7 linked regions of the Homo sapiens genome follow. The protein of the gene in region 1 interacts with the protein of each later gene in a pairwise test. Each region holds a gene or a part of one and is shown in the gene's direction. Other genes may lie near its edges. The genes, in order: LITAF, SRCIN1, SMAD5, BAG3, IMMP2L, CBX1 and POGZ.

What was found.
Region 2: the proteins of LITAF (region 1) and SRCIN1 interact in binary tests that used the Homo sapiens proteins (3 or more experiments, as listed by UniProt).
Region 3: the proteins of LITAF (region 1) and SMAD5 interact in binary tests that used the Homo sapiens proteins (3 or more experiments, as listed by UniProt).
Region 4: the proteins of LITAF (region 1) and BAG3 interact in binary tests that used the Homo sapiens proteins (3 or more experiments, as listed by UniProt).
Region 5: the proteins of LITAF (region 1) and IMMP2L interact in binary tests that used the Homo sapiens proteins (3 or more experiments, as listed by UniProt).
Region 6: the proteins of LITAF (region 1) and CBX1 interact in binary tests that used the Homo sapiens proteins (3 or more experiments, as listed by UniProt).
Region 7: the proteins of LITAF (region 1) and POGZ interact in binary tests that used the Homo sapiens proteins (3 or more experiments, as listed by UniProt).

What each region holds. Positions count from the first base shown.
Region 1 is NC_000016.10:11,551,941-11,556,473, reverse strand, and holds part of LITAF (lipopolysaccharide-induced tumor necrosis factor-alpha factor), read left to right. Parts: intron 1-2,784; coding exon 2,785-2,941; intron 2,942-4,533.
Region 2 is NC_000017.11:38,602,557-38,607,714, reverse strand, and holds the start of SRCIN1 (SRC kinase signaling inhibitor 1), read left to right. Parts: upstream 1-1,762; 5' UTR 1,763-2,009; coding exon 2,010-2,031; intron 2,032-2,996; exon of another isoform or gene 2,997-3,112; coding exon of another isoform or gene 3,113-3,236; intron 3,237-5,158. UniProt on the Homo sapiens protein: Acts as a negative regulator of SRC by activating CSK which inhibits SRC activity and downstream signaling, leading to impaired cell spreading and migration. Regulates dendritic spine morphology. Involved in calcium-dependent exocytosis.
Region 3 is NC_000005.10:136,180,235-136,183,962, forward strand, and holds the end of SMAD5 (mothers against decapentaplegic homolog 5), read left to right. Parts: 3' UTR 1-2,499; downstream 2,500-3,728. UniProt on the Homo sapiens protein: Transcriptional regulator that plays a role in various cellular processes including embryonic development, cell differentiation, angiogenesis and tissue homeostasis.
Region 4 is NC_000010.11:119,674,919-119,678,891, forward strand, and holds the end of BAG3 (BAG family molecular chaperone regulator 3), read left to right. Parts: intron 1-1,545; coding exon 1,546-2,364; 3' UTR 2,365-2,901; downstream 2,902-3,973. UniProt on the Homo sapiens protein: Co-chaperone and adapter protein that connects different classes of molecular chaperones including heat shock proteins 70 (HSP70s), e.g. HSPA1A/HSP70 or HSPA8/HSC70, and small heat shock proteins (sHSPs), e.g. HSPB8.
Region 5 is NC_000007.14:111,552,034-111,556,566, reverse strand, and holds part of IMMP2L (mitochondrial inner membrane protease subunit 2), read left to right. Parts: intron 1-4,533. UniProt on the Homo sapiens protein: Catalyzes the removal of transit peptides required for the targeting of proteins from the mitochondrial matrix, across the inner membrane, into the inter-membrane space. Known to process the nuclear encoded protein DIABLO.
Region 6 is NC_000017.11:48,094,039-48,098,478, reverse strand, and holds part of CBX1 (chromobox protein homolog 1), read left to right. Parts: intron 1-4,440. UniProt on the Homo sapiens protein: Component of heterochromatin. Recognizes and binds histone H3 tails methylated at 'Lys-9', leading to epigenetic repression. Interaction with lamin B receptor (LBR) can contribute to the association of the heterochromatin with the inner nuclear membrane.
Region 7 is NC_000001.11:151,404,860-151,407,932, reverse strand, and holds part of POGZ (pogo transposable element with ZNF domain), read left to right. Parts: intron 1-641; coding exon 642-698; intron 699-909; coding exon 910-1,022; intron 1,023-1,301; coding exon 1,302-1,326; intron 1,327-1,468; coding exon 1,469-3,073. UniProt on the Homo sapiens protein: Plays a role in mitotic cell cycle progression and is involved in kinetochore assembly and mitotic sister chromatid cohesion.

The sequences.
Region 1 (4,533 bases):
GGCCCTCCACCCTGGGAATCAGGAGAGTGACCGAAGTGACTCTGCCAAAGAGTCTAAGTGAAGTGCCAGTACGTTCCAGTTTTACCCCCTTACCTTGAAATTCCACACGCAGTCTTTTAGATTCCATGTTGGTGAGGCTCACAGCTTTTCCGTAATAAAGTATGGTTTAGGATCTTTCCCATGGTCATCATATACGAATCTTTTGGCACATCTCTTGGAGGCACAACCAACTTTCTTCTGAGAATGGGAGTTTGTGTCTTAAGGGCCCGCACACTTCCTCCTGAGGTCTGATGCAGAACTTCTGCCCTGAGGCCAGGGCCGAGGTAGGAATAGGGAGGAGAAGAAACCGTCCTGAGCAATGTGTGATTGTGTTTTCATACCAGCTCACCCTCAATGCAAGTTGCTCTTCTGCTTTTGAGCAACTAGATGGTCCCTGTCCTTTGGTGCTTCCTTCCGCCCAAGGGTGCCCTGGTATGTCACTGCTTTAGTATCACAGGTAGTTCTGAAAGAAATCTTTAGCTCAGAGAGGGGGCCCGTGAATCAGACTGCCTGGGTTCACATAACCTCCTTGTGCCTCAGCTTCCCCATTTGTAAAATAGGTTTCATCAAGTACCTATTTATAAATATCAGTGAGTTGTTAACATGAGAGGAAGTTGTGTGTGCCAAATACAGAGTACTCGTTTGATAAAAGTGAACTCTTATTGTTGTGTTCAAGTTATTTTGAGCTGGAAGAGGATGAGATAATGACTTTAGATTCTTAGACCATCCTGTGATCAATAAATAGTTTCTTTTTCTTTTTCTTTTTTTTTTTTTTTGAGACAGGGTCTCACCATGTTGCCCAGGTTGGAGTGCAGTGGTGCAGTCATGGCTCGCTATAGCCTGGACCTCCTGGGCTCAAGTGATCCTCCCACTTCAGTCTCTGGAATAGCTGAGACTACAGGCATACAGCACCACACCTGGCTAATTTTTAAATTTTTGTGTAAATCGGGTCTCACTGTTTTTCCAGGCTGATCTTTAACTCCTGAGCTCAAACGATCTTCCCACCTCCCTTGGCCTCCCAAAGTGTTAGAATTATCAGCATGAGTCACAGAGCCTGGTCCAAATAACTTATTCTTGAACCCCAAAAACACTTAATAAAATGTATGAACAGGGTGTGGTGGCTTGCGCCTGTAATCCTAGCTACTGAGGAGGCTGAGGCAGGAGGATCACCTGAGGCCAGGAGTTCCAAACCAGCCTGAGTGACATAGTGAGACATTGTCTCTATGAAAATAAAATTAGCTGAGTGTGATGGCTTGTACCTGTAGTCCCAGCTACTTGGGAGGCTGAGGTGGGAGGATTGCTTAAGCCCAGGAGGTTGAGGCTGCAGTGAGCTATGATTGTACCCCTGCACTCCAGCCTGGGCAACACAACAAGACCTTGTCCCCCCTGCCAAAAAAAAATTACACGTAAGTGCTAAAGTATGATTTAATACTACTTTTCTGGAAGGAGGGTCTTTCTATGAGTATTACTAAGTTCAGTTAACTCTAGGCAGTAATTTCCCCCTAATTCATTTGTTATATAAATGACATTCTAACGTAAAAAGGAACAGAAGGAAGTTGCTTTAACAAAAATATGAGCTTAACAACTGAAGTGCTTGATGATTTTCATCACCCTGGGTTCTCTCTTTTTTTTTTTTTTTTTTTTTTTGAGGTAGAGTCTTGTTCTGTTGCCCAGGCTGGAGTGCAGTGGCATAATCTCGGCTCACTGCAACCTCTGCCTCCCAAGTTCAAGCAATTCTCCTGCCTCAGCCTCCCAAGTAGCTGGGACTACAGGCACGTGCCATCATGCCCGGCTAATTTTTGTCTTTAGAAACAGGGTTTCACCATGTTGGCCAGGCTGGTCTTGAACTCCTGACCTCTGGTGATCCACGCACCTCGGCCTCCCAAAGCCAAGGGATTTGCTGGGATTACAGGTGTGAGCCACCGTGCCCGGCCTGGATTCTCTTCTGATTCTTGAGAATGTTCGAACATGTTTTCACATAGCTTTTTCTTCCTAGCATTATTTTATATTTTCATTTCTTGTATCAACACAGTTCACTAGCTTGTTGTCTTACAGAGTTGGCCTGCGTTTCCTGGCTTGGTAAACTCTACCCTTATCATTGGCTGTCAGAGTTTATCAAAGGGTTTGTGTAAAGAGAGTGGATTATTTATCAAGAGCTGCTAGGCACAGTGTGAGGCTGGTTAAAATTTATTTATTTGTTTTTGGGACTGAGCGTCGCTCTGTTGTCCAGGCTGGAGAGCAGTGGCGCAATCATGATTCACTGCATCCTCAATCTCTCAGACTCAACTGATCCTCCCACCTCAGCCTCCTGAGTAGCTGGGACTACAGGCGTGTACTCCCACGCTGGGCTAATTTTTATATTTTTTTGTAGAGATGAGGTCTTGTCATGTTGCCTAGGCTGATCTCAAACTCCTAGGCTCAAGCAGTCCTCCCACCTCGGCCTCCCAAAGTGTTGGGATTACAGGCATGAGCTACCGCGCCCGGTCCTCCTTTCTTTTTGAGGCTGAATCATATTCTGGTGGATGGATAAACTTCGCTGTGTTAGTTTATTGGTCCGTCGATGGACACTGGTGTTCCTTCCCCTTTTGGCTCTCATAGATAGCCAGACGATGAACGCATGCTATGAACACAAATGTACAAATATAATATTTGCTGGCATCCCTGCGTTCCTCTCTTTGTCCTGTAGTGAATGCTATTGGCCTTGTTTCCTGAGCAACCTGTGTTTGTCCCTCTCCCTTTCATCAGTTACCGTGCAGACGGTCTACGTGCAGCACCCCATCACCTTTTTGGACCGCCCTATCCAAATGTGTTGTCCTTCCTGCAACAAGATGATCGTGAGTCAGCTGTCCTATAACGCCGGTGCTCTGACCTGGCTGTCCTGCGGGAGCCTGTGCCTGCTGGGGTGAGTCTGCCTCCCACTTGGCCCCAAGCCATCCTGCCCTTCTCTCTGGGTGCTGGCGGGGGTGGGTTCTCAACTGCACCATGCTTGACATTCAGGGCCAGACATTTGTGTTGTTTTTTTTTGAGATGGAATCTGGTTCTGTCGCCCAGGCTGGAGTACAGTGGGGCGATCTCGGCTCACTGTAACCCCCACTGCTCAGGTTCAAACGATTCTCCTGCCTTAGCGTCCCGTGTAGCTGGGATTATAGGGGTGCACAACCACGCCCAGCTTATTTTTAGTAGAGCTGGCATTTCACCATCTTGGCCAGGCTGGTCTCAAACTCCTGACCTCAGGTGATCTGCCCACCTTGGCCTCCCAAACTGCTGGGGTTACAGGTGTGAGCCACTGTGCCTGGCCTAAGGCATTTCTTTCTTTTTTTGTGATGGATTCTCACTCTGTTGCCCAGGCTGGAGTGCAGTAGCACGATCCCGGCTCACTGCAACCTCCGCCTCCCAGGTTCAAGCTATTCTCCTGCCTCAGCCTCCTGAGTAGCTGGGATTACAGGTGTGCACCGTCAGGCCCGGCTAATATTTTGTACTTTTAGTAGAGATAGGGTCTCACCATGTTGGCCAGGCTGGTCTCGAACTCCTGACCTCAGGTGGTCCACCCGCCTCAGCCTCCCAAAGTGCTGGGATTACAGGTGTGGGCCATCATGCCTGGCCCAAGACATTTCTTTATTGTAGGGGGTGTCCTGTGCATTGTAGGATATTGAATAGCATCCCTGGCCCCCACCCGCTTAATGCTAGGAGCACCACGCTCCCCAGTGTTCTGAACAAAAATGCCCCCTGGGAGGCCAAGTCATCCCTGCTGCTCTTAAGCGTATCCGTCCCCAGAAATTGGTCTTCCGTCTTTTCTTCTTGCTTATCTGCTGAAACCACGCCCTGCATGTAGGGACAAGCTTCACAGCTGCTTCCAGCTGTGTACAGGGCAATATCCTCAGGGATTCCTTTTTCTTCTAGAATTTCATGACCTAAATAATAATGTTTTGCTCGAGCCCGAGGGAAGCTTTAAAGAATCTGTACATTAAAATTCTTCATAGGAATTGCTTCAAAACTTCTTATCCTTTTATGACCCGAAGTATTTTTCCCATTGCCCATGCAGGGAAATTATATAAATTTTATGTCTGCACCAAAGGTATTATGTTTAAAGAGATAACAGTTTCTGTTCTGGGAGAAAAATCTGAGGAAACACAATCAATTTTTTGTTTCCCACCAAGCAGGTAAAAGTAGCTTCCTTATACCTGGCCACGTGAGCCACTCAGAAAACCCCAAGGGGCTCCATTCTTTTCCTTGAAGGAAACGGTGTTTGTGAGTTTCAGGAGCCTCATGCAACCGGCACGTTCCTCCACATTGTCCTTTGGTGACTTGAGGTTGAGAAGGAACAATATTTCTCTTCCTAACTTCAATAAGAGGCTCAGAGTCCCAGAGAGTTTAGTTAACTTCCTTGAGGTCATGTGTTAAATAAGGAAGGAAGGAGACAAAACAGCTTTCTGGGCACCTGATTCCCCCTCTTGCCCACAGGACTCTGCTGTTGTTTTCATTCTGTGGGCAGAA
Region 2 (5,158 bases), on another chromosome or scaffold:
AAAGTGGGGGAGGGAAGAAATCTTGTCCCTTGGGGGGAATCTGAGTTGGGGGCAGGTGAAGGGCAGGAGTCCTGTGCAGTCAGTGGGTGAGGAATCTGAACGGAGGAGCGACCTGTGCCAGAGCTCTGGGCTCCCAGCCGCTTGGGAGGTGGTGTCCGTGTGCTGAGGGGAAGCTACCCTTGCCTCCCCTGAGCCTCCCCCACACAGAGCCTGCTGCCTCCCATGCCCATCCTGGGCAGGCAGCCAGGCAGGGCACTGGATGGATGCCCACTGTGCGCTCAGAGGCCAAAAGATGGGCACCATCCAGTTGGCAGAGGGAGAGGCAGTTGGCCCAGGAGGGAAGAAGTCAGGGTGCCTGCCGCTGGGGTCGTGTGCCCAGACTGTGTGTCCAGGACACAGCTCTTGGCTGTCCTCCTGATCTGTCCCACTGGAGCTGGGAAGGGCCTCTCCTCTGGTCCTGGCCCTGGCATCTGAGTTACTGCAATTGGTTATTTATCTCTAAGGGGAATCTGGGACCTTGTCCCTAGCTGGGCATGTGGTTGGCTCAGGGGCAGGCCTGGGGGTGGATAGGAAATTGGGAGAGCCCAGATTAAGGTTGCAACTGGGTAGACCAGGAAGTGGGGAAACCGGTTTGTCATTTGGGCCACTTGGGGTGGGGTCTCCTCTCCTGGGCTCTCTGCCTGCCTGCCACTCTGCCTGATGGCCCACAGTGAATAGAAGTACTGTGTCCACTCTCTTGCTCACCTAAACTGCTTTTGGAAACTCCAGAAGTAAATAAAAGGGACAGGGGACTCAGCCCACCTTCTCCTCCGCAAGAAAGCTTGAGAGAGAAGGGACTGGCCAGAGCATCGGAGCGAGGGAGGGAGGGGGCCGCTGGAATCACGAGGTGTCGGCGCGGGCCTGGGTCTGGGTCTGGGTCCGGGTCAGCGCTGGAGAAGTCTGCGGAGCCAACAGGTAGGCCAACGAAGGTGGGACGCGGAGGGGCGGGGGACGGCAGGGTGGAGCCGAGCTAGTGCTCTGCGGGCTGAAGTAGAGGCGGCAGTGACGCCGCCAAGCGAGGCGTGAGCAGGGACCGTCGCTGGAGCGTCCTACGGTGGGGTCTCACTGGCCGGAGGGGCGCGGACCTGCCTGCAGTTCCCGCGCACGCCTGCAGGAGGGGCTGCAACCCGGAGCGGGGGCGAGGCGGCGGCCCAGCAGGGGGCGCCGGGGAGCCCAGACCCTCCGACCGAGCCGCGTCTAGGCGCGCTGGGGTGAGGGGTCGCGAGGCAGAAGCAGAGGAGGATCCGGGCGCTCCCAGCATGGGGCGGCTGTTGGTTTCCGCGGTCACCTTGGCTGAAGGGAGCCCCCAGTCTCGCCGCCCCGCCTCCCCACCCAGCCCCGAGAGCCTTTCCATCCCTAGGCGCGCCCGGGCTTGGAGACCCAGGAGTCCTCCACCCTCCAAGTGTCCCCGCTTCCCCGGGTGCCTCCTCCGAGCCGGTCCTCGGTCAATGTATTTGTCTCTATCGTGGCGCGAAGACTACTTGGGGTGGGACGAAGCAGGTGGCGCGGGAAGGAGAGAGTGAGCGCGCCCCGCGCCCGGCCCCGGCCGCGCGCTGCGGGATCACGCGGTGAAGCTGGAGGGCGCGAGAAGGCGCAGTGCCCCCTCCCCTCCCCCGCCCCCGCCGCCCCGGGCGGCCCTTTGTAAGTTCCGGCCACACGCGCGCGCCCGCGCCGCGCGCGCGCCCGCCCGCAGTGACACACCCGCGCCGGCCCGCGCGCGCGCAGACACACACTCAAACACACACACACTCGCTCTCGCACACTCGGTGACACGCCCGCGCGCGCGCTCACCCACACGCCCGGCCGCCGGCGCCCTCCCAGCTGGTCCACCCCGGCGGGGCCCGCGCCCCCGGCCCGCCCGCCTGGCACCGCGCCCCGGGGCTGGGGCCGAGCGAGGAGCCCGCGAGGCGGCGAGAGGGCGAGCGCCAGGCAGGCCGGCCCGGGGCCCCCGCCCCCCGCGCCCCCGCCCGATGGGGAACGCTCCGTCCCAAGGCATGTCCCTGTCTCTCTCCTCCCTAATGTGCCTCCATGCTTAAGTGGAAGGTATTTCTGTTTTCTTTGTGTGTTTTCCCCCTCGGCCGGGGGCGGGGGCGGCGGCCGGGCCGGGGAGGCGGTGGCCGGCGGGGCGAGGGATGCTGGGGCGCAGGTGTGTGGGGGCAGGGGACCGCTGTGCGCCGGGCTTGGGAGAAGGACCCGGGCGAGAGGAGTGCTGGGACCAGAGAAGGGGGCAGGGTGGCGAGGCAGGAGACTGGGTGGGGAGGGCCTCACTACGCCCCGGGGTGGGGGCCAGAGGGGTTCAACTGTAAAGGGGCTTGTGTGGAAGGGGGAGGGGTGAGGAGAAGAAGGGGGATGGATGGTGAGGAGGGTGGGGGGAGAAGGGCGTCCCTCCGAGGTGGGGGAAGTGGAGGATGCAGGGGAGGGGAAGGGGATGGAGAAGTGAGGGGTGCATCAAAGGCCTCCCTCCCCCAGCTCCCAGAATGGGGTGCACGGGCTAGGATGGTGGTGGTGGGCCCTTTGCGCCAGCCTCCAGGGAGGGAAGGGGATGAGTGCGTTCTGGGGTTGGCCGCGTTGCCAGGATACAAGCCTGTATTCCACACACCCCCCCTCCCCGCACCTCGAGGCCCTAGCCCTGGAGACCTCTGAGCCTCAGCAGCAGTTGCAGAAACTGGGGACCAGCTCCCCGCTCTACCAGCGGGTAGGGAGGGCCACGAGAGGGAGGGGTTTAGGGAGGGGCTATTTGATCTTAACCCCTCCCCCTGCAGAGGCCAGGGGGCAGGGGAGGGCGCCCCCAGCTGGGGAGGGCATCTAGGGTGAGTGAGAAGATAGGGAAGGCAGGCGGCTGAGGGGTGGAGGGTGGGGCTGGGAAGGGGACGCACCGTGGCCCCCCCTCCCCTCCCACGCACCCCCCTGCTACGTCAGAAGCTCCCGGGCCAGCTCCGAGTCCTGTCGGTGGGGGCAGCAGGATGCTGGTGGAAGCAGAGGGGACAGGCCGGGTGCCTCCGCAGCTCAGCTGTCAGGGCCCGGCGGGGCGTGTGCGGCTGCTGGTGCTCGTCCCCCAGCCCCACGCGTCCCCATGCAGCCCTGGCAGTGCCTCCGGCGCTTTGCCCTGGCCTGGTGGGAGAGGACGGCGGAGGGCAGAGCCCGCTCTCCCAGGGAGGAGGCTGGACCGAGGGACCCTGGGGGCCGAGGGGAGCCAGGTGAGCAGGCGCGGGGAAGTATGCAAGGAGGGGGATCTTCCCAGCCCCCCTCCTCAAATGTTGTGGGACAAGGAGGTCCTGCAGCACCCCAACTTTAAGGAAAGTGGGCTCCCCGAGCTGGGGGTGGGGGTTTCTGGCAGCAGCCTTTCAAAAGGAGATGGAGGAGCTGCTGTCTGTTTTGGGGAAGGGAGAAACAGGTGAGGCTTGGGAGTGAGGGAAGCTGACCAGACTTCCAGGTTTGTGGGCCTGAATGTTCCTTTGGGTGGGGTTTGAGCACTTTTGGGGGGTCGTCAGGATACCTTCTTCCCGACTCTTGGTATCTTGGTCTGGGTGACCTTGAGCCAACTGCTTTGCTGTCTAATTCCTTGCCTCAGTTTCTCTTATTCCCATCCCTTTCCCTCTTGTTGATCTTTAAAAATTGATGATGCATTTGATGGAGATTGTGAGGCTGTCGCCACTGGTGGCAGCTGTGATGGTGGTGGTTTCTGGTGTGGTTGTATGTGGGGAGCAGCTATGGTGCATTTGAGGGGTTTTGCTGGTTCTGGTTGGTGATGGGCCACTCCATACAGGTGTCAGGGACATGGGAAGGAACATTCACACAGGAAGGAGTGCTCCAGGCAAGCTGAGAGTTGCTGGGGACAGAGACTTAGCTGGTGGCCTGGGGTAGAAGCAAGGGATGGGGTGAGGGCTCTGGGCATAAGGGGAGGGTTTCCAAGAATAAGATGCACCCCCCCTCCACCCCGCTGTCCCCACCCAGACTGCCTGGCACCCAGGCACCACTGGCAGCAAGTGCAAAGGCTTTGCCCTGGCTTCCTGCCACCCTGCCTTGGGGACAAGAGGGTCTTTGTCCAGTCCCCCCACAACAATTCCTGCTTCTTCTGCCCTTTCCACGATGGCTGGTTCTCTGTGATGACCCTCAAGGCTGGGATGGAGGCACAAATCCCCCTTCTGGCTCCCACTGTCTGTGCCCTGGAGCTCTATCTGGAAGAGGCAACTGTGGTCCTCGGGGAGTGCTGAGTGGAGAGGGATGCTCCACTAGGGGAAGGGTCGCTCGAATGAACCCCTCAAAGAGCTACCCCCACCCCAGGCTTTCCCCTGCCCCTCTACTTGCCTCCTTGCCTAATGCGGAGGGTCTGGGGTCTTCGTGGCCTCATCCCTGCTGGGTTCCAGGCGTCTTAAAGATGTGCAGGATACTGGGTTGGGCACTGGGATGCAGGGCCTCTCTGATGCACTCTCGCGCTCTCTCTCTCTCTTTCTCTCTCTCTCCCCCTCTCCCCCCTCCCTTCCCTGTCTCTCTCCCTCTTCCCTCTCTCTCGCCAGGGACCCACCCTGGAAAAAGGGTTTAATTAGAACCATTGATTCCTTCTTTGGCTGTGGGCATCGACAGTGTGGTCAGAGCTAGAGGGTGGGGGTGGCATGGCTGCCATCTGCCTATGCCAACCTTGGAATTCTCTGCCAAAACCCCAGCCCTGGAAGTGCTTAGGAGGGAGGCGGCTGGGCTCTTTGAAGTACCCAGTTTGTTGAGCCCCCACCCCCACCCCAGGTTAGGTTTTGGGGAAAGAAGGGAGACAGTGTTGAGGATTTGAACTGAGGGAGCTGAGTTTGGGGCTCAAGGAAGAACAGTTCATGGCGTCTGTCATCCTGGGTAGCAGGCCTGGGGCACATGAAGAGGCAGCTGTGGTGGGGGGTGCTCTTGCAAAGGGGCCTGTGGGTGCTGGGCAGGCAGGGAGTTCAGGGGAAGGATCCAGGGCTTGCCATAAAAGCTGCTCTTTCGAGGAATCTCAAGCATTTATCTCCTCCAAGCCCTGGCAAGGAAATCTGTTTTCTTTCTTCATTTATGTCCTTGAGGCCCAGAGAGGGACACAGACTGCCTCAGAGGCCCAGCAGACTTAGGTCTAGCTTTAAGCCTGGTTTCCTGACCT
Region 3 (3,728 bases), on another chromosome or scaffold:
AAAGTACCTCTGAAAGAAACCATTTTAGCAAATTATGGTTATATGTTTTAATTTAATCTACAGAATGTTTTATAGTAAAATTCTAGCACCACTAGAATAATCACATAGCATGTACAATATATTTATGCTGGCTGAAAAGACAGAATCTGGGAATAATAAAATTGCAACCAGTTTGGTAATGCAAACAGCAGAATAGAATGAAATCTCAGTAATGAATTAAAGCAACAAAAAGATATTGATTGGCAAAAAGCAAGATATAAGAGATTCATTTGCTTAACATTTCTACATAATATTTATGGTCTGGTCAGTATTGGTCTGGTCAGTATTGCCTGGCTGACGTGAAATGTAAACTAGTAGGCGTGTTATTGATCTGCTAAAACTAACCCTCTTTTTAAGAGGAGATTTAAGGAAGACGTCAATCAAAATGTCAAATATGTGTGTCAGAATATAAATAATTTTTCACATTGTATTGTTGCTATATAAAAAAAATAATAGAATTGGTTGGGTTTCTGAGGTGAAATCCAGAGTAAGAGTACTAGACAGTTCAACAAGCCACATCTAATGGCACAGATAGAGGATGTAGCTATTTTATACCTTTCATAACATTTGAGAGTAAGATATCCTTCAGGATGTGAAGTGATTATTAAGTACTCATACCTGAAATCTGTTGTCAAGATTAGAACTGGGGTTCATGTTAAAAACCTTCCATATTACCTGAGGGTACCTGTGGGGAACAGTTCCTTCCCCTGTGTGGTAGTATTTTGTTGGAAGAGAATGTTTATACAAAAAATGAAATTCTTCCAACAGCAGAGAAACTCTAAAAAGTTTGATAGTACCTATCAAAGTGCTGTACTTCTGTGATAGAGAACATCTGATGTACCAATTTAGATCTATTTCTTTATACTTTTTCTAATCAATTGCTTAATAGTACTTTGGATGATTATCACCTTTGCCACTTAAAATATATAAATATCCTTTTTACTTCATGAGGAAGGAAGAATTTTTTGATAATTACTGAGTTCAGCCTTTTGTGATGACTTATATTTTGGACTTACATTTTAACTTTAAAGAATGTCAGATCCCTTCTTTGTCTTACTAGTTAAATCCTCACCTAATCTCTTGGGTATGAATATAAATGTGTGTCATCGTTATATTGTTCAGCTAGATGAGCAAGTATCTTAGGGTAGTAGGTAGCCTGGTGGTTTTAGAAGTGTTTGGTGATTTTTATGGAGAGAGTTTTCCTAAGTGGTGGTTTATAGGTGGTATCAGATATTATTAGGGCAGCTTTTTGGGGAGTAATCTCAGGTCTCCCAGAGCAGCAGCATTTTTCTCATTGATATAAGTAAGATTCTTAGGAGCTTTTCTTATCACACAAGATGCCTGAATCGAATGTGAGAATTGAAGGCATTTCTTCTGCATAAACAAAGAATTCTACCTGCTGGACAGAAACCTGGAAAGTTCTTTGGAATTCGCTGAATTACAGTTTAGTATGTCCTGATTACAGAGTGACAATATTTATCAAGCCTTTGTTATATTGGATTATCTTCTCTCTTAAAATACAACTGTATTATAATTGAAATGACAGCCCAAAATTGGATGGTTTACCAAAACCAATGAAAGGGATTTCACACATCAATTTTTATTTCTGTTTTGAAGAGCACATGCTATATAATAATTGCTAGTAGCAACTGCAGTAAAACAGGTGATAAGTTATTTTCTCTGAAAAGATCCAGTCCTAGAGCAGGATTCTTCGATCATTCATGGCAGAGTGAAAAAGGTTTGTATGGTTCTTGTCCAAATAACTCAGTTCTTAAAATTCTTAAAATGATCGTAAACCATTATCCTTTAAAGGTTTATTTGAAGATGCTGTTAAAGTACAGAATTTTGTGTACAGGTAGATTTTTCCGTCCCTCATTAATAGTGCCTTCTTAATTAATACAGACTGGTGTTAGCTATAACAAAACTCCAGTAAGGCCAAAGAATCCCAAGTTCTTTGTGGAAAAAAAAAAAAAATCTTTTAGGGTCAGATTTTCCCTTCTAATATCATTGAAGATGATGTTGCATTGATTTATTCATAAAGTATTTTAACTATAGGAACTCTAGAAGATAATGGTTAGGCAAGTGATTTTTTTTTTAAATATGGTTGGCGTAAGTTGTATTTTGAAATTCACTTATTTTAAAATCGAAGAGGATTGTAATCATGGAAATAGAATGTTTGTATCTACCTGCCCACATTTTCTTAAAAAGATATTTCATATACAGATAATGAAGACCAAGCTAGTGGCTGCACTGTAGGTCTGCTGCTTATTTGTATTTGTTGTGCTTCTGTTTATGTTGTAGAAGCTGAAATTCTAGCAACATGCTTCAATTCTGTTATTTTGATACTTATGAAAATGTATTAGGTTTTACTATATTGTGCTTTTGAAAGCCATAACTCTTAAGAACTTTGTTTTTGCATATTGTTTGCTAATTCTTTACTTTAATAAACCTCAAAACCTGCTTAATGTGTCTTTTTTTGTTTTGGCTCTGGAGTTGGCCTGCCTGCGTTTGAGTCATGGGCCTCATAGCTTAGACAAGTTGCTTAACCACTCTATGCCTCACTTTCCTGACCTGTAAAGGAAAAGTCTACTTCATAGGAAGGATTTGAGGGAAGATTAATTGAAGTGTAATACAAATACAGTATTTAGAACAGTACTTAGAACATAAGAACTCAAATATTAAAATTGTTACTATCTTTTACATTTCCACTAGTTCTTTGATTCAGAATAATTACTTCTTATGTTGCTTGACCTCGGTGTATCAACCTTTGATGATCCACTTTGTGAATTTACAATTTTTTATTTCCTTTTGTCTTCTTTTTTGAAAAAATTTTAAATCACAGACTGACTTTGCATCATTGTCACTGTGTTGCACACTTTTACCAACCTCTGAATTACATATACAAGACATGCAAACTCATTCTAATTAGAAAGGAATGGTGAGCGAGGCACAGTGGCTCAGGCCTGTAATCCCAGCTTTTTGGGAGGCTGAGGCAGGTGGATCACCTAAGGTCAGGAATTCAAGAGAAGCCTGGCCAACATGGTGAAACCCCGTCTCTACTAAAAATCCAAAAATTAGCCGGGTGTGGTGGCGCGTGCCTGTAATCCCAGCTACTTGGGAGGCTGAAGACAGGAGAATCGCTCGAACCCAGGAGGTGGAGGTTGCACTGAGCCAAGATCATGCCATTGTACTGCAGCCTGGGCAACAAGCGATACTGCGTCTCAAAAAAAAAAAAAAAAAAAAAAAAGGAATGGTGAAAAATCATGTGCCCTTGCCAGAAATGTAGAAAAACCCAAACTACATATTAACCCTAAAGGATAAAGATAAAAGCACTTGTTCTTTTTTTTTTTTTTTTTTTTTTTAATAGATAAAAAAGACTCTATTCAAGCTTGTCCAGCCTGCACACATGGGCTGCATGTGGTCCAGGACAGCTTTGAATACGGCCCAACACAAATTGGTAAATTTTCTTAAAGCATTATGAGATTGTTTTGCGAGTTTTTTTTCTTTTTTTTAGCTCATCAGCTATCGTTAGTGTTAGTGTGTTTTATGTGTGGCCCAAGATAATTATACTTCACTGTGGCCTAGGGAAGCCAAAAGATTGGACATTCCTACCAATTTCTGAGAATCAGTTCCTTCCTATGTCTTTTTACTTAAAAGGCATTTTGTAAGGTATTTTGTAGCAACATCAC
Region 4 (3,973 bases), on another chromosome or scaffold:
GAACTGAGATCACACCACTGCACACTCCAGCCTGGGTGACAGAGCGAGGCTCCGTCTCAAAAACAAAAACAAAAACAAAAAGCGTCAAGATATTTTTGCTTTGAGCATAGCTCATTAAAAAATATATGGCTTACTAGGCGTGGTGGCTCACACCTATAATCCTAGCACTTTGGGAGGCCGAGGTGGGCAGATTGCTTGAGCTTAGAAATTCAAGACCAGCCTGGGCAGCATGGTGAAACCCTGTCTCTACAAAAAAATAGAAAAATTAGCCAGGCATGATGGTATGTGCCTGTAGTTGCAACTAATCATGAAGCTAAGGTGAGAGGATCACTTGAGGCCAGAAGGTTGAGGCTGCATTGAGCTGTGATAGCCCCGCTGCACTCCAGCCTGGGCAACAGAGTGAGACCCTGTCCCCCACAAAAATCTATATATCTATATGGCTGTAGTTTATAGTCACAGGAAAACCTGTGCAGCCAGAGGTTAGCACAGAGGCGCTGTGTCATTGCTGAATGTTAGGCTACAGCACAGCTATCCTGAAGCAAAATTGTTCTGGAGTTAACCATTTAGAGCATCTTGGCTAATCCTAAAAAAATACATTGGTCTGGGCAGAAACTACTAGGCTGTCACGGTTTTAAAAAAAGAAGATCGTATCTTTTCTAAAACAGGAGACAAGAAGATCACACCGTGAGCAGACTGTCTGCACAGTGTAAGGAAGAAGGACCAGAGGCAGCGACTCCAAGGCTGCAACACCTGAGAGCTGGAGTCACTCAGGACTCTGCTCTGAGTCAGCCTAGTTCAGCAGTCAGCATGAGTTTTTGCTATTTTTTTCCTTCTTTCCTTCCTTCCTTCCCTCCTTCCCTCCCCCTCCCTTCCCCCCTTCCCCTTCCCCCCTTCCCTGCTTCCTTCCCCCTTCCCCCTTCCCTCCTTCCTTCCTGCCCCCTTCCCCCTTGCCCCCTTCTCCCCTTCCTTCCTTCCTTCCTTCCCCCCTTCCTTCCTTCCTTCCTCCCTCCCTCCCTTCCTTCTTTGAGACAGGATCTCGCTCTGTCACTCAGGCTGGAGTGCAATGACATAATCGTGGCTCACTACAGCCTTGAATTCCTGGGCTCAAGCGATTCTTCCGCCTCAGCCTTCTGAGTAGCTGGGACTACGAGTGCAAGCTCCCACACCTGGCTAATTTTTAAAGATTTTTTGTAGGGTTGGGGTCTTACTATATTGCCCAGGTTAGCTATTTTCATTTTTGAAAATTTTATTGGGTTTCTTTTCATTGCCATTAAGAATACCATCTACAGAGAAATTCAGTGAGAGGTAATAGACAAATAGCCTGGGGTGATCAATGGAAGCCTGACTAATGATTGGGTTACATACATGATTAATACCATGTTTTTATTTTGTAACAGCCATTGATTGACTTTGAAAATCTTTTATACTATTAAACTTTTTTTAAAAAGCCATTTCTCAGTTTTCTTTCTAATCTGTACTAGCTACAAACAATTTCTGTGACTTTCAGTCAGTTATTAAAAATATATTTTTGTGTCCTTTTTTCAGCAGCCCATGACCCATCGAGAAACTGCACCTGTTTCCCAGCCTGAAAACAAACCAGAAAGTAAGCCAGGCCCAGTTGGACCAGAACTCCCTCCTGGACACATCCCAATTCAAGTGATCCGCAAAGAGGTGGATTCTAAACCTGTTTCCCAGAAGCCCCCACCTCCCTCTGAGAAGGTAGAGGTGAAAGTTCCCCCTGCTCCAGTTCCTTGTCCTCCTCCCAGCCCTGGCCCTTCTGCTGTCCCCTCTTCCCCCAAGAGTGTGGCTACAGAAGAGAGGGCAGCCCCCAGCACTGCCCCTGCAGAAGCTACACCTCCAAAACCAGGAGAAGCCGAGGCTCCCCCAAAACATCCAGGAGTGCTGAAAGTGGAAGCCATCCTGGAGAAGGTACAGGGGCTGGAGCAGGCTGTAGACAACTTTGAAGGCAAGAAGACTGACAAAAAGTACCTGATGATCGAAGAGTATTTGACCAAAGAGCTGCTGGCCCTGGATTCAGTGGACCCCGAGGGACGAGCCGATGTGCGTCAGGCCAGGAGAGACGGTGTCAGGAAGGTTCAGACCATCTTGGAAAAACTTGAACAGAAAGCCATTGATGTCCCAGGTCAAGTCCAGGTCTATGAACTCCAGCCCAGCAACCTTGAAGCAGATCAGCCACTGCAGGCAATCATGGAGATGGGTGCCGTGGCAGCAGACAAGGGCAAGAAAAATGCTGGAAATGCAGAAGATCCCCACACAGAAACCCAGCAGCCAGAAGCCACAGCAGCAGCGACTTCAAACCCCAGCAGCATGACAGACACCCCTGGTAACCCAGCAGCACCGTAGCCTCTGCCCTGTAAAAATCAGACTCGGAACCGATGTGTGCTTTAGGGAATTTTAAGTTGCATGCATTTCAGAGACTTTAAGTCAGTTGGTTTTTATTAGCTGCTTGGTATGCAGTAACTTGGGTGGAGGCAAAACACTAATAAAAGGGCTAAAAAGGAAAATGATGCTTTTCTTCTATATTCTTACTCTGTACAAATAAAGAAGTTGCTTGTTGTTTGAGAAGTTTAACCCCGTTGCTTGTTGTTCTGCAGCCCTGTCTACTTGGGCACCCCCACCACCTGTTAGCTGTGGTTGTGCACTGTCTTTTGTAGCTCTGGACTGGAGGGGTAGATGGGGAGTCAATTACCCATCACATAAATATGAAACATTTATCAGAAATGTTGCCATTTTAATGAGATGATTTTCTTCATCTCATAATTAAAATACCTGACTTTAGAGAGAGTAAAATGTGCCAGGAGCCATAGGAATATCTGTATGTTGGATGACTTTAATGCTACATTTTAAAAAAAGAAAATAAAGTAATAATATAACTCAAAATGGTTTTTGTGGTTTCTAAATCTTTGAAAGCAGTGGCATCATGGAGATTGTCTGTCCCTGGTTTCAGTCAGAATAAATGACAGGTGCATTTAACAAGCCTGCTTTGGGTTTTGTGACGTCTCCAATAGCCCGGCTCAAGAGAGAATTGTCTTGGTCACCTTTCAGTCTCAGATTGCAACAGGAACCTGGGAAGACTCAGGGCTGTGAACTCCGGTAATGGGAACATGCCTGCTGCATCCGTTCGGACCGACCCAGCCAACAGCCAAGGTGCCAGTTAGGTAGCATGTCTGCCCACCTGTCCTCAGGCCTCACCAAGAAGCTGAGATTGTCCAAAAGTGCCCAGAGGGCCTGGCGCAATGGCTCACACCTGTTATCCCAGCACTTTGGGAGGCCAAGGCAGGAGGATCCCTTGAGGCCAGGAGTTTGAGACCAGCCTGGGCAACATAGCAAGACCCTGTCTCTACAAAAAACAAATCAGCCAGGTGGTGGCATGCGTCTTCAGTCCCAAGCTACCAGGGATGCTGAGACGTGAAGATAGTTTAAGTCCAAGAGATGAGGCTGCCGTGAGCTGTGATCCCGCCACTGCACTCCAACCTGGGCAACAGAGTTGAGACCCTGTCTCTAAAAATTAAAAAAGGAAGCGCACAGGGAAGCCAGCTCCCACTATTGCCCAAGGCTGGCCAAAGTGTTCCTTGGAGTCTAGGTCACTGGGGGTTGGAAATGTGCTCTGAGAATCTTGGGGTCATCTTTATTAACACCTTGTGAGTCACCAAACCAAACTGAGACCAGATTTATCTTCCTGGATTGGGTTCCTAGAAGCCTCTGGAGTTAGGGACGAGATACACTCAGGCCTGGGTAGAAGGAGATTCTTCTTGCTGTGCCAGTGGCTTTTTTTTTTTTTTTTTAACCTTGGGAGGGACCACAGCCCCACAGCATGGAGATGTGCTGGATTTGTTTATTTTTTATTTTTATTTTATTTATTTATTTAACTACTTGCCAAATAAAGTGAAAAGAGAAAGGCCTGAGACCTTGGAACTCTCAGTGAAGTGCTGACTTAAGAGCCCCCGAGCTG
Region 5 (4,533 bases), on another chromosome or scaffold:
CTATCGTGCTGTGGGTAAAGGACTGAATAGGAGATGAGGCTGAAGGGGGCTGGACATGAGAATAGAGAGTAGATATGCTTGGGTCCCTCTTAGGAGATAATTGTTCTTCAGTCAGGGTATTTACTTAATACATTTTATTGTGTATATTTAAGGAAAATAACATGTTATGGAATACATGTAAATAGTAAAATGGTTACTGTAGTGAGACATAGTAACATCCATCATCTTACATAGTTATCCATTTTTGTGTGTATGACAAGAGTAGCTAAAATCTACTCATTTAGCAAAAGTCAGGAATACAATACAGTATTATATAGTACTGATGCTGTACATGAGTTCCCAAACTCTTTCATTATACATGGCTGCTACTTTGTGTCCTTTGACCTACATCTCAATTTCCTTCCCCCTCCCCTGGGATCACTGTTTTATTCTCCATCTCTGTATGCACACATATTAGAATCCCCTAGAGAGCTTTTAAAAATTCCGACTGATATCTTTACAAGGTTGCGGTTTCATTTTCTTTGGGTATGTATATATATATATATATACATGCACACAGAAGAGGGATGGCTAATTGGTACAAAATAGAAGTAATGGTAGTTCTATTTTTAATTTCTTTAGGAACCTCCCTACTTTTTCCATAATGGTTGTACCAATAGTATACAAGGGTTCTCTTTTCTCCCACCCTCGCCAACACTTATCTCTTGTTTTATTTGGTAGTAGCCATCTTGATGGGTGTGAATATATGGAAACAACCTAACTGTCCAACAAAAGACAACAGAAAATCAAACTGCAGTACATATATAGAATGGAATATTATTCAGCCTTAAAAAAGAAATAGATTCTGCTTTTTGCCATAAGATAGGTAAACCTAGGGGACATTATGCTAAGTGAAGTAAGCCAAATGCAGAAAGAAAAATATTGTATTATCTCACATGTGGAATCTTAAAAAAAAGTCAAATACATAGTGAAATCATATCACTGCTTCAGATTTTATTTTTTGAGAGAGAAACAACATGTCTGTATGCTGTGAGTTAGAAACACCATAGAAAGGGAGATGTTGAAAATACAGTTGCCTGATTCCTTGCTTGTCATATTTTTTTTTTTGTGAATGAAGATTAGGTTGTCGCTTTGTTTGCCTACTCCTTCCCGGCTTGCAAAATTCATATCTGACCCCAACTGTCAGATATGAATTTTAAATGTCCTTTCTACTCTATTCTTTCCTGCCCCACAGTTCACTGCTGTCTTGCTCTCACTACGTCTGGCCCTTTTGCATACATTATTCTCTAACCTAATCCAGTTGTGCGTAAAAACTCCATTTTCCTTTATTAAAAGTTGAAAAATTTCACAGGAGTGTCTGCTAGGAGAATGGAGGAAATAATGATAACAAACATAAAAATCATTCAGCATAGCCAACATGTATTAATATCTGCTATGGTAAAGGCCCTGGATACAAAGATATATATGGCAGGAAGGATGAGTAACATAGGGATCTGATCTTAATGCATTTATGCCTAGTGCTCCATTATTGGAGCGCTAAGCTAGTGGGAGTTATTTATATCCTACTTCTCAAGGTCATCGCCAAGGCCTGATTTTTCACAAAAAAAATTTGCAACCTCCAGCATAAATGGGTTAAGGACCCCTCAGGGCAGTGAGAAAAATGGATATATAAATAAAGCAGCACCAGTACTTTGGGAGGCTGAGGTGGGTGGATCACCAGAGGTCAGGAGTTCGAGACTAGCCTGGCCAATATGGCAAAACCCCGTCTCTACTAAAAATACAAAAATTAGTCAGGCATGCTGGCATGTACCTGTAATCCCAGAGGCTGAGGCAGGAGAATCACTTGAACCCAGGAGGTGGAGGTTGCAGTGAGCCGAGAATGTGGTACTGCACTCCAGCCTGGGTGACAGAGCAAGACTCCATCTCAAATAATAATAATAATAATAATAAAATAAAAATAAAGCAATGCTTTGAGGGACAATATGTGCTATGATAGAGTTCAAGGTAAGATAGATGCAAAAAATGGACTTCATTATTTTTGTGATCCTGAAGGTCTCACAAAAGGTGATACCTGAGCTATAGCTTGAGATATGGCATGGTGAGGTTCGGGGAGTAAGATTAGGGGAATAAAATATTCCTTAATGGCCCCACGATAGCAGCAGAAGGGGCTTGGGTTTCTCATCTTCCCTTTCTTCTTGTTCTGCGTGATTTTATTGCAAGATATTTTTGTGTTTGAGGGAGTTCTTAGGGGGTTAATATGTTTCAGTTTACATATAGACGTATCAGCATTTTCTCCCTTGTGATATAAACTTTCTGTGAATTTACCAACACTGGTTTATTATATATTAGACAGCTAACACAAACCAGTGCAATTATATCAAGTATCTGGGGGATGAGGTCCAGGCAGTGATATTTTCAAAGCATCTTAGGTGTCCTCATGGCAGTCAGGGTGGAGAACCACTGGGCTAAAACATGGCTTAGAAGAAAAGGCTGGGATTTGGAGCTAAAAAATTGTAGATTAGATTCTTGAATTCCTTTTAATAGTTACGTATCCTTAGTTAAGTTACTGAGACTTCTCTAAGGCCATCATTGAAAAATAGGATGGTAGTATACCCGTCCTGCCTACCTGTTTTGCAAAGTTATATGGCTCAAAAGAGGAGATTTGTGTGAAGGAACATTATATGCAGATGTGATTATAACAATAAAATGTTCTCTTGACCTTCTCCAGAAGTGGACAGGCTTAAGAGCTGGCTACCTTGTCCTGTAAGATAGGAACTACTTTATGGATTTTGATTTAATATTTTACCATCACGAGCATTTTGATGATATATTTTACTACATTTGTGTAATGCTACAAGGTTGAAGACCTAAAGCCAAAATGCAGAACCTTAAAGAAATAGCAGTTGAGCATTTCCTGTCTGATATATTCTAATTGTTTAAAATTACACAGATGCTTATTGTAATTAAGATTTAAGTGTGTAGTCTCAGTGTCAGTAATATTTTAGTATTAAAATTCTCTAAATGTGTTAAGTGTTTATTTTCATGATATGCACATTAAAAATAGCCATTTTCCAGAAAATAGTAACAACTCCACAGAGCACAATGGAGCACCACAAATGGACTTATTTTGGAGATTCCCATTATATTCGTTAAGAATGCAGGGACATATACTGTGTCTCTGTACTGTAGGAAGCTTGACATACTAGTATCAGTCATATAATCGTGTAGGAATGATCATCCTTACAGTATTATACCTTATTTTAGTTGAGAAGAAAGTGGTATTGTTTAATGACAAATTGAACCTAAAGCCTAAAGACTGGGTTCCAGATCTGTTTTCTCTACTCATTCCTATATGATAATTGGTAAATTAACCTCTCTGAGCCTCATATGTAAAATTGGGTTCTCTGTTGTTTTGTAACATGAAAACCTTAGTGGCTGAAAACAACAATGATTGTTTGTTATCTCATGGTTGCTGTGGGTCAGCAATTTGAGGGTCCTTGCTTGGTTCTCTGGAGGTTGCTGTCAGATATCAGCAGGAGTGGAAGTTTTATAGGAGCATCACTGGAGCTAAAAGATTCACTTCCAAGGTGGCTTACTCACTTGGCTGGCCAGTTGGTGTTGGCAGGTTGGTTCCTTTCCACAATGGGCTTGCCGTGGGACTATTCTCATGAGATGGCAGATGACTTTCCCGAGATTCAAGCTGCCAAAGTAGAAACTGCAGTGCCCTTTATGACTTACCTGTGGAAGTCATACACCATCATTTCAGATGTATTCAATTGGTTCTACAGACCAGCCCTGATTCAGTATGGGAGTGGATTACACAAGGACATGAGGCAAGGATCATTGTGGACTGTCTTGTGAGGGTAGGCTCTCTGAGAGGATAACAGTCTCTACCTGACATAGGATTGCTTTGAGTTTCATTGTAAGCATTTATGTGAGAGTCCTTTGTAAACCATTAAAGCAGCATATAAATGTGTTATAGAAGTGATGGTGGCTCACACCTGTAATCCCAGCACTTTGGGAGGCCGAGGCAGGTGGATCACTTGAGGTCAGGAGTTTGAGAACAGCCTGGCCAACATAGTGAAACTCTGTCTCTACTAAAAATACAAAAATTAGCCGGGTGTGATGATACATGCCTGTGATGCCAGGTCCTCAGGAGGCTGAGGCAGGAGGATCTCTTGAACCCTGGAGGTGGAAGTTGCAGTGGGCAGAGATTGTGCCCGTGCACTCCAGGCTGGGTGACAGAGTGAGACTCTGTCTCAAAACAAAACAAAACAAAACAAAAATGATGCTATTCCTTTTGACCAGTAAAACTGAATGGAAGTTGAATTATTTTGCTTTGTGCCATGTTAGCATTATGACACACCTTGCTCCAAATCCTTTCCTGCTTGCTTTACCTTATATCTTACTTTATATTCAAGAATTCTCCCCCTTTAATAATCAGCTAGAACAAAATAGCCTTTTTCAAGTTTCTCACATCTCTGGTGTAGAAGTAGTACATTGAATGGGAGAAAATTATAAACGAGCAGTGGC
Region 6 (4,440 bases), on another chromosome or scaffold:
TGTTCATTAGTGCCTGGCACATAGTAGGCCGTTCAGATTGTTGATGAATGAATGATGAATAGGGGAGCTTTGAGATCCATTCTGAGAACTCAGCCAAATTAATGTGCATAGTAGTTTGCTTGTCCTGTGTCTGTGACATTTGGCAGAGTTAAGCTGTTGCTTTGCCATGTTTGTCTTAGCCTCAGTTAGTTTCTTTTTGTTTGTTTGTTTGTTTGTTTTTTGTTTTTTTAAGACAGAGTGTCGCTCTGTTGCCAGGCTGGAGTGCAGTGGTGGCATCATGGCTCACTGAAGCCTCAACCTCCTGGACACAAGCAGTCCTCCCACCACAGCCTCTTGAGTAGCTAGGACTACAGTCTCATGCCACCATGCATGGCTTCTTTTTTGTGGGGACAGTCTCTGTTGCCCAGAATGGTTAGCTTCAGTTTTGTACTCACTCTGGTACTAAATATAGAAAAGGTATACAGGCTGTGCAACTGGCCGTTTTAAATACCTCAGGCCTCAGATTCTGGGTTTTGTCAGCAAGCAAATAGCTTGAATATATCTGTTTTAAAAGAATCTTGAAAAATCTTCTGTGTCCTTTGTATTGACCTGAGCAATAATTTACCAGTAGCAATGTCTGTTGAAAAATTGAATAGCCTTTCCAAGGTTATTTGGAGAAGTTACTCAGATATGGACAAAATTTAGATCTTGTCAATATTTGCATAGAATAACTTGTATTAAATCTTTCCTGCCTTTAGCATTTATACTTTGATGACCAGAAGGGGGCAACCTAATTTGTCTGTGAAATTGTGCCTTTTAAAATAATAGTTGACACTTTGAGTGCGTAACAGAACTATGGTATTAATTTTTTTTTTTTTTTTTTGAGACAGAGTCTCGCTCTGTCGCCAAAGCTGGAGTGCAGTGGCGCGATCTCAGCTCACTGCAACCTCCGCCTCCCAGGTTCAAGCGATCCTCCTGCTTCAGCCTCCGGAGTAGCTGGGACTACCAGGGGGCCCCGACAACGCCCGGCTAATTTTTGTATTTTTAGTAGAGATGGGGGTCTTGCCATGTTGGCCAGGCTGGTGTTGAACTCCTGACCTCGGGTGATCTACCCTCCTCGGCCACCCAAAGTGTTGGGATTACAGGTGTGAGCCACTGCGCCCAGCCTATAGTATTAATTTTTAACTGACAAGAATGGTGTATCCTTATGGGGTACAATGTGGTGGCGTTTTTTTTTCTTTTTTTGAGACGGAGTTTCGCTCTTGTTGCCCAGGCTGGAGTGCAGTGGCGCAATCTCAGCTTACTGCAACCTCCGCCTCCTCGGTTCAAGTGATTCTCCTGCCTCAGGCCTCCTAAGTAGCTGGAATTACAGGCGCCTGCCACCACGCCTGGCTAATTTTTTGTATTTTTTTAGTAGAGATGGGGTTTCATCATGTTGGCCAGGTTGGTCTTCAACTCCTGACCTCAGGTGATCCACCCTCCTTGGCCTCCAAAGTGCAGAGATTACAGGCGTGAGCCACCACGCCCAACTTGTGGTGGGGGTTTTTGAACTTTTATTTTTCTCACATAAATAGAGGCAGGGACTCACTATGTTGCCCAGGCTAGTTTCGAACTCCTGGCCTCAAGTAATCTTCCCACCTCACCCTCCCAAAGTACTGGGATTACAGACATGAGCCACTGCACCTGGCCCACTGTGGTGGTTTTTGTTTTTCTTTTCTTTTTTTAGACAAGTCTTGCTCTGTCACCCAGGCTGGAGTGCAGTGGTGCACTCCACTCAGCTCACTGCAGCTTCCACCTCCCGGGTTCAAGTGATTCTCCTGCCTCAGCCTCCTGAGGAGCTAGGAATACAGGTGCACACCACCATGCCCAGCTAACTTTTTTTGTATTTTTAGTAGAGATGAGGTCTCACCATGTTGGCCAGGCTGGTCTTGAAATCCTGACCTCAAGTGATCCACCCACCTCAGCCTCTCAAAGTGCTGGGATTGCAGGTGTGAGCCACCATGCCTGGCCACTGTGGTGTTCTGATACGTTTCCAATGTAGTCATAATTCTGGTCTAGCTTTCTAACCACTTTTATTTTATCTTAAATTCACCTTTGAAAGATAGCTTGAGGTATCTCTGTGTCCATACTAACATTTGTAGACTCTTGTGGCCTCTCAACCCAAAAATCTGTGTCAAAATATCCATGTCAACATACTCAAGGGGTTTTCCAAGTTTCAGAACACATCTCAGATAAAATTCAAAATGTATTCGCACACCAGCATTCTAGCCTTTGATCCTCTGGAATTCAAGGGCTGGTGTTCCTTTAAAAATGAAACTCCTGACTGGGCGTGATGGCTCACGCCTATAATACCAGCACTATGGGAGGCCTAGATGGGTGGATCACCTCAGGTGGGAACTGAAGACCAGCCTGACCAACATGGAGAAACTCCGTCTCTACTAAAAATACACAATTAGCTGGGCGTGGTGGTGCATGCCTGTAATCCCAGTGACTCGGGAGGCTGAGGCAGGAGAACTGCTTGAACCTGGGAGGCGGAGGTTGCAGGGAGCCGAGATTGCACCACTGTACTCTAGCCTGGGTGAAAGAGCAAGACTCCATCTCCAAAAAAAAAAGAAACTCCTGCTAACTGTGTGTGGCATAAGTTCTTGTTTTCTGCTTAGTCAAGTTTTCCATCTGGAAAGCATTTGCTTCGCAAACAGCCACAGCTTACAGACTACAAGCAGTTTAGAAACAAGACTACCACCTGAATATACTACACATGCCTTCACCTGCCTTTTGATGATTGGTATGTAGTTGCTGATTCTTTCAACAAAAGGTACTTCTTTCTTGTTTTCTCTTTAGGGCTTATGGATCAGATTTATCTTGCTGCTTATTCCCTTAAAAGCTTATAGCTTTGGAATTCTATTCCCTGATGCTTCTGAGACAGTCATCCTCTTTTTTTTGAGATGGAGTTTTGTTCTTGTTGCCCAGGCTGGAGTGCAATGGTGCAATCTCAGCTCACCGCAACCTCAGCCTCCCAGGTAGCTGGGATTACAGGCGTGTACCACCATGCCCAGCTAATTTTGCATTTTTAGTAGAGATGGGGTTTCTCCATGTTGGTCAGGCTGGTCTCGAACTCCCAACCTCAGGAGATCTGCCTGCCTCAGCCTCCCAAAGTGCTGGGATTACAGGCGTGAGCCACCGCGCCCCACCTGAGACATCCATCTTTATTGTCCATATAGGGTTCAACAACTTGTTCAGGTTCCAGACCTACCTTTAATTGTATGTGCAAGTAAAAATAGAAACAGAATGCTTTGGGAACCCCAAAGAAAAGAGAAATATTATTTAGCTAGGTTGGGTAGGCTTCATGGAGAAAGTAGCATTTTTAAGCTGGGTCTTGAAGAATGGATAGGATTTTGACTGTTGGCCCTGTACAGGAGCACACTACTTTCTTTTTTCTTTCTTTTTTTTTTTGAGGCAGAGTCTTGCTCTGTCACTGAGGCTGGAGTGCAGTGTCAAGATCTTGGCTCACTGCAACCTCTGCCTGCCTGGTTCAAGTAATTCTTGTGCCCCACCCTCCCAAGTGGCTGGGATTACAGGCATGCACCACCACACCTGGCTAATTTTTGTATTCTTAGTAGATATGGGGTGTCACCATGTTGGCCAGGCTGGTCTTGAACTCCAGGCGTCAAGTGATCCACCCGCCTCGACTTCCCAAAGTACTGATTTATAGGTGTGAGCCACCAAGCCCAGTCAGGAGCACACTTTTTTTTTTTTTTTTTCCTTTGAGACAGAGTCTTGGTCCGTCACCCAGGCTGGAGTGCAGTGGCGCGATCTCAGCTCACTGCATCCTAACCCCGTTTTCCGGATTCAAGCAATTATCGTGCCTCAGCTTCTTGAGTAGCTGGGACTACAGGTGCGCCATGCTGGCTAATTTTTTTTTTGTATTTTTAGTAGACACGGGGTTTCACCATGTTGCTGGGCTGGTCTCAAACTCCTAGCCTGAAGGATCCACCCACCTCGGCCTCCCAAAGTGCTGAGATTACAGGTGTGGGCCACAGAGCCCAGCCCACACTTTTTTTTTTTGGAGACAGAGTCTTGTCCTGTATCCCAGGCTGGAGTGCAGTGGCACAATCTTGGTTCACTGCAGCCTTCACCTCCCAAGTTCAAGGAATTCTCCTGCTTTAGCCTCCTGACTATCTGGGATTACAGGTATGTGCCACCACACCTGGATGATTTTTGTATTTTTACTAGAGTTGGGGTTTCACCATCTTAGCCAGGCTGATCTTGAACTCCTGACCTCAAGTGATCCACCTGCCTTGGCCTCCCAATGTGCTGGGATTACAAGCATGAGCCACTGCGCCCTACCAAGCCCACACTTCTTTTTTTTTTTTTTTTTTTTTTTTGAGACAGAGTTTCACTCTTGATGCCCAGGCTGGAGTGCAGTGGCACGATCTTGGCGCATCGCAACTTCCGCCTCCC
Region 7 (3,073 bases), on another chromosome or scaffold:
TCAAGTGATTCTCCTGTCTCAGCCTCCCAAGTAGCTGGGATTATAGGTGTGCACCACCATGCCTGGCTGATTTTTTTGTATTTTTAGTAGAGACGGGGTTTCACCTTGTTGGCCAGGCTGGTCTCAAACTCCTGAGCTCAGGTGATCCACCTGCCTCGGCCTCCCTAAAGTGCTGGGATTACAGACATGAGCCACTGCGCCCGGCCCCAGCCAGATTCTTGAGCACTCATTTCATTTTCTCCCCTGCTTCTAATATGTTTCCTCCTTCAACTCTTAGAGCTATTTGTTCTTCTCTCCTAGCAGAGTGAGAGGCTCTGTTTTTTCGGTTTTGATGGTCTGTGCTCTAATTTCATAGGGCCTTGCTATTCAAGTACCAGTAGTATTAGGTGGGAGCTTGTTAGAAATGCTGACTCTCAGCCCCGCCCTAGGCCTACTGAACCAGAATGTGAATTTTAATAGATCCTCAGTGACTTGTATGCATATTAAAGTTTAAGAAGCATGGTGACAGGAAAACTGGCTTAGGTTGAGATTAGGGTGCACTGAAGAAGTGTCTCTTTTGTTGGGGGCATTGTCACTGGCTGGTGATCTCTAGCTTAGCCAGCAGAACTCCGTAACTCATACCACTTCTTTGTCTTTCTCAGCAATCATGTTCCACGGAAGAGCCCCAAGTATTTGGCTTTGTTTAAAAATTCTGTGAGGTAAGAAAAAACTTATTGGCAGCATCTTAATTTTTCAGGTTTTTACATTAATTTTCAGGTTTTTCATTATTTGGAGAGGTGGTTATGTGAATTAATTTCAGAAAAAGGAGAAAGTGGGAGGGCATTCCTTTTCTTTCTTAAGCCTCAAAGCTTAATGGTCTCAAGTGTCACTGCTGTGTTTGTCTTACATAGTCTCAATTCTCTTTTTTAGTGGAATCAAGCTGGCCTGCACTTCATGTACCTTTGTTACCTCTGTGGGCGATGCTATGGCCAAGCATTTGGTATTCAACCCCTCTCACAGATCCAGCAGCATCCTGCCACGGGGTAAGTAGGAGAGAAGGGGATTAGTTGAGCAAGGGGAGGAAAAAAGATACAGGTTCGTACTGTATGCATCAGGAGCATACCTACTTGGCCTCACTCATTCACTGTTGAGATGTGCTGGACCTAATTAGAAACCTTCCGACCTGAAGTTTATATAAAACTGGGAAAGCTGGTCACTGCGAACAGCGTATTTGTATGTAGTAAGTTGAATCCCAGGGCACTGTCTTTGGAGGGCTTATTTTTTCACTGAGCTAACTATTTTTGTTGTTTCATTTTCCATAGGACTCACTTGGATAGCTCACTCAAGGTAACAAAAACTCACCTCACAATTTAATTTCTGGTTTGCAGTGTGTTTACTCTGTTATTATTATTATTATTATCATATTATTGTTTCAATTTCCTAGTTGAACTGAGATTTCTCCTCTTCTCTTTGCTCCTCACCCCTTTAGGCATGGCCAGACTCGTGACCGAGTGCATGACCGGAACGTGAAGAATATGTACCCTCCTCCTTCCTTCCCCACTAACAAAGCTGCCACTGTGAAATCTGCGGGGGCCACCCCAGCTGAGCCTGAAGAGCTACTAACTCCCTTAGCCCCAGCACTCCCATCACCAGCCTCAACTGCAACCCCACCACCAACCCCCACTCACCCGCAGGCTTTAGCCCTTCCACCGCTGGCTACAGAGGGAGCCGAATGTCTGAATGTTGATGATCAGGATGAAGGGAGCCCAGTCACCCAAGAACCTGAGCTAGCATCAGGTGGTGGTGGTAGTGGTGGAGTTGGCAAAAAGGAGCAGCTGTCTGTGAAGAAGCTTCGAGTAGTACTGTTTGCTCTATGCTGCAATACAGAACAGGCAGCTGAACACTTCCGAAATCCCCAGCGACGTATTCGCCGTTGGCTTCGACGTTTCCAGGCCTCCCAGGGGGAGAATCTAGAGGGCAAATATCTGAGCTTTGAGGCAGAAGAGAAACTGGCTGAGTGGGTGCTAACCCAGCGCGAACAACAGCTACCTGTAAATGAGGAGACCTTGTTCCAGAAGGCCACCAAAATAGGACGTTCTTTGGAAGGGGGGTTTAAGATCTCCTATGAGTGGGCTGTGCGTTTCATGCTGCGGCACCACCTGACTCCCCATGCCCGGCGAGCTGTGGCCCACACCCTACCTAAGGATGTAGCAGAGAATGCAGGACTCTTCATTGATTTTGTACAACGGCAGATTCACAACCAGGACTTACCCTTGTCTATGATTGTGGCTATTGATGAGATCTCTTTGTTCCTGGATACAGAGGTGCTGAGCAGTGATGATCGAAAGGAGAATGCCCTGCAGACAGTGGGCACAGGGGAACCTTGGTGTGATGTAGTCCTAGCCATTCTGGCAGATGGCACTGTCCTTCCCACCCTGGTTTTCTACAGAGGGCAGATGGATCAGCCTGCTAACATGCCAGACTCCATATTGCTAGAGGCAAAGGAGAGTGGCTACAGTGATGACGAGATCATGGAGCTGTGGTCAACTCGAGTGTGGCAGAAGCACACAGCTTGCCAGCGCAGCAAAGGCATGCTTGTGATGGACTGTCATCGCACTCACTTGTCAGAAGAGGTACTGGCTATGCTTAGTGCCTCTAGCACTTTGCCTGCAGTGGTCCCAGCAGGCTGTAGCTCCAAAATTCAGCCATTAGATGTATGCATCAAAAGAACTGTCAAGAACTTCCTGCATAAAAAATGGAAGGAACAGGCTCGGGAAATGGCAGATACTGCATGTGATTCTGATGTCCTGCTTCAGCTGGTGCTTGTCTGGCTGGGTGAAGTGCTAGGTGTCATTGGGGACTGTCCAGAGCTAGTTCAGCGCTCCTTCCTGGTGGCTAGTGTTCTGCCTGGCCCCGATGGCAACATTAACTCACCTACAAGAAATGCTGACATGCAGGAGGAGCTAATTGCCTCCCTAGAGGAGCAACTGAAGCTGAGTGGGGAACATTCTGAGTCTTCCACTCCACGACCCAGATCATCTCCTGAAGAGACAATTGAGCCTGAAAGTCTTCACCAGCTCTTTGAGGGTGAAAG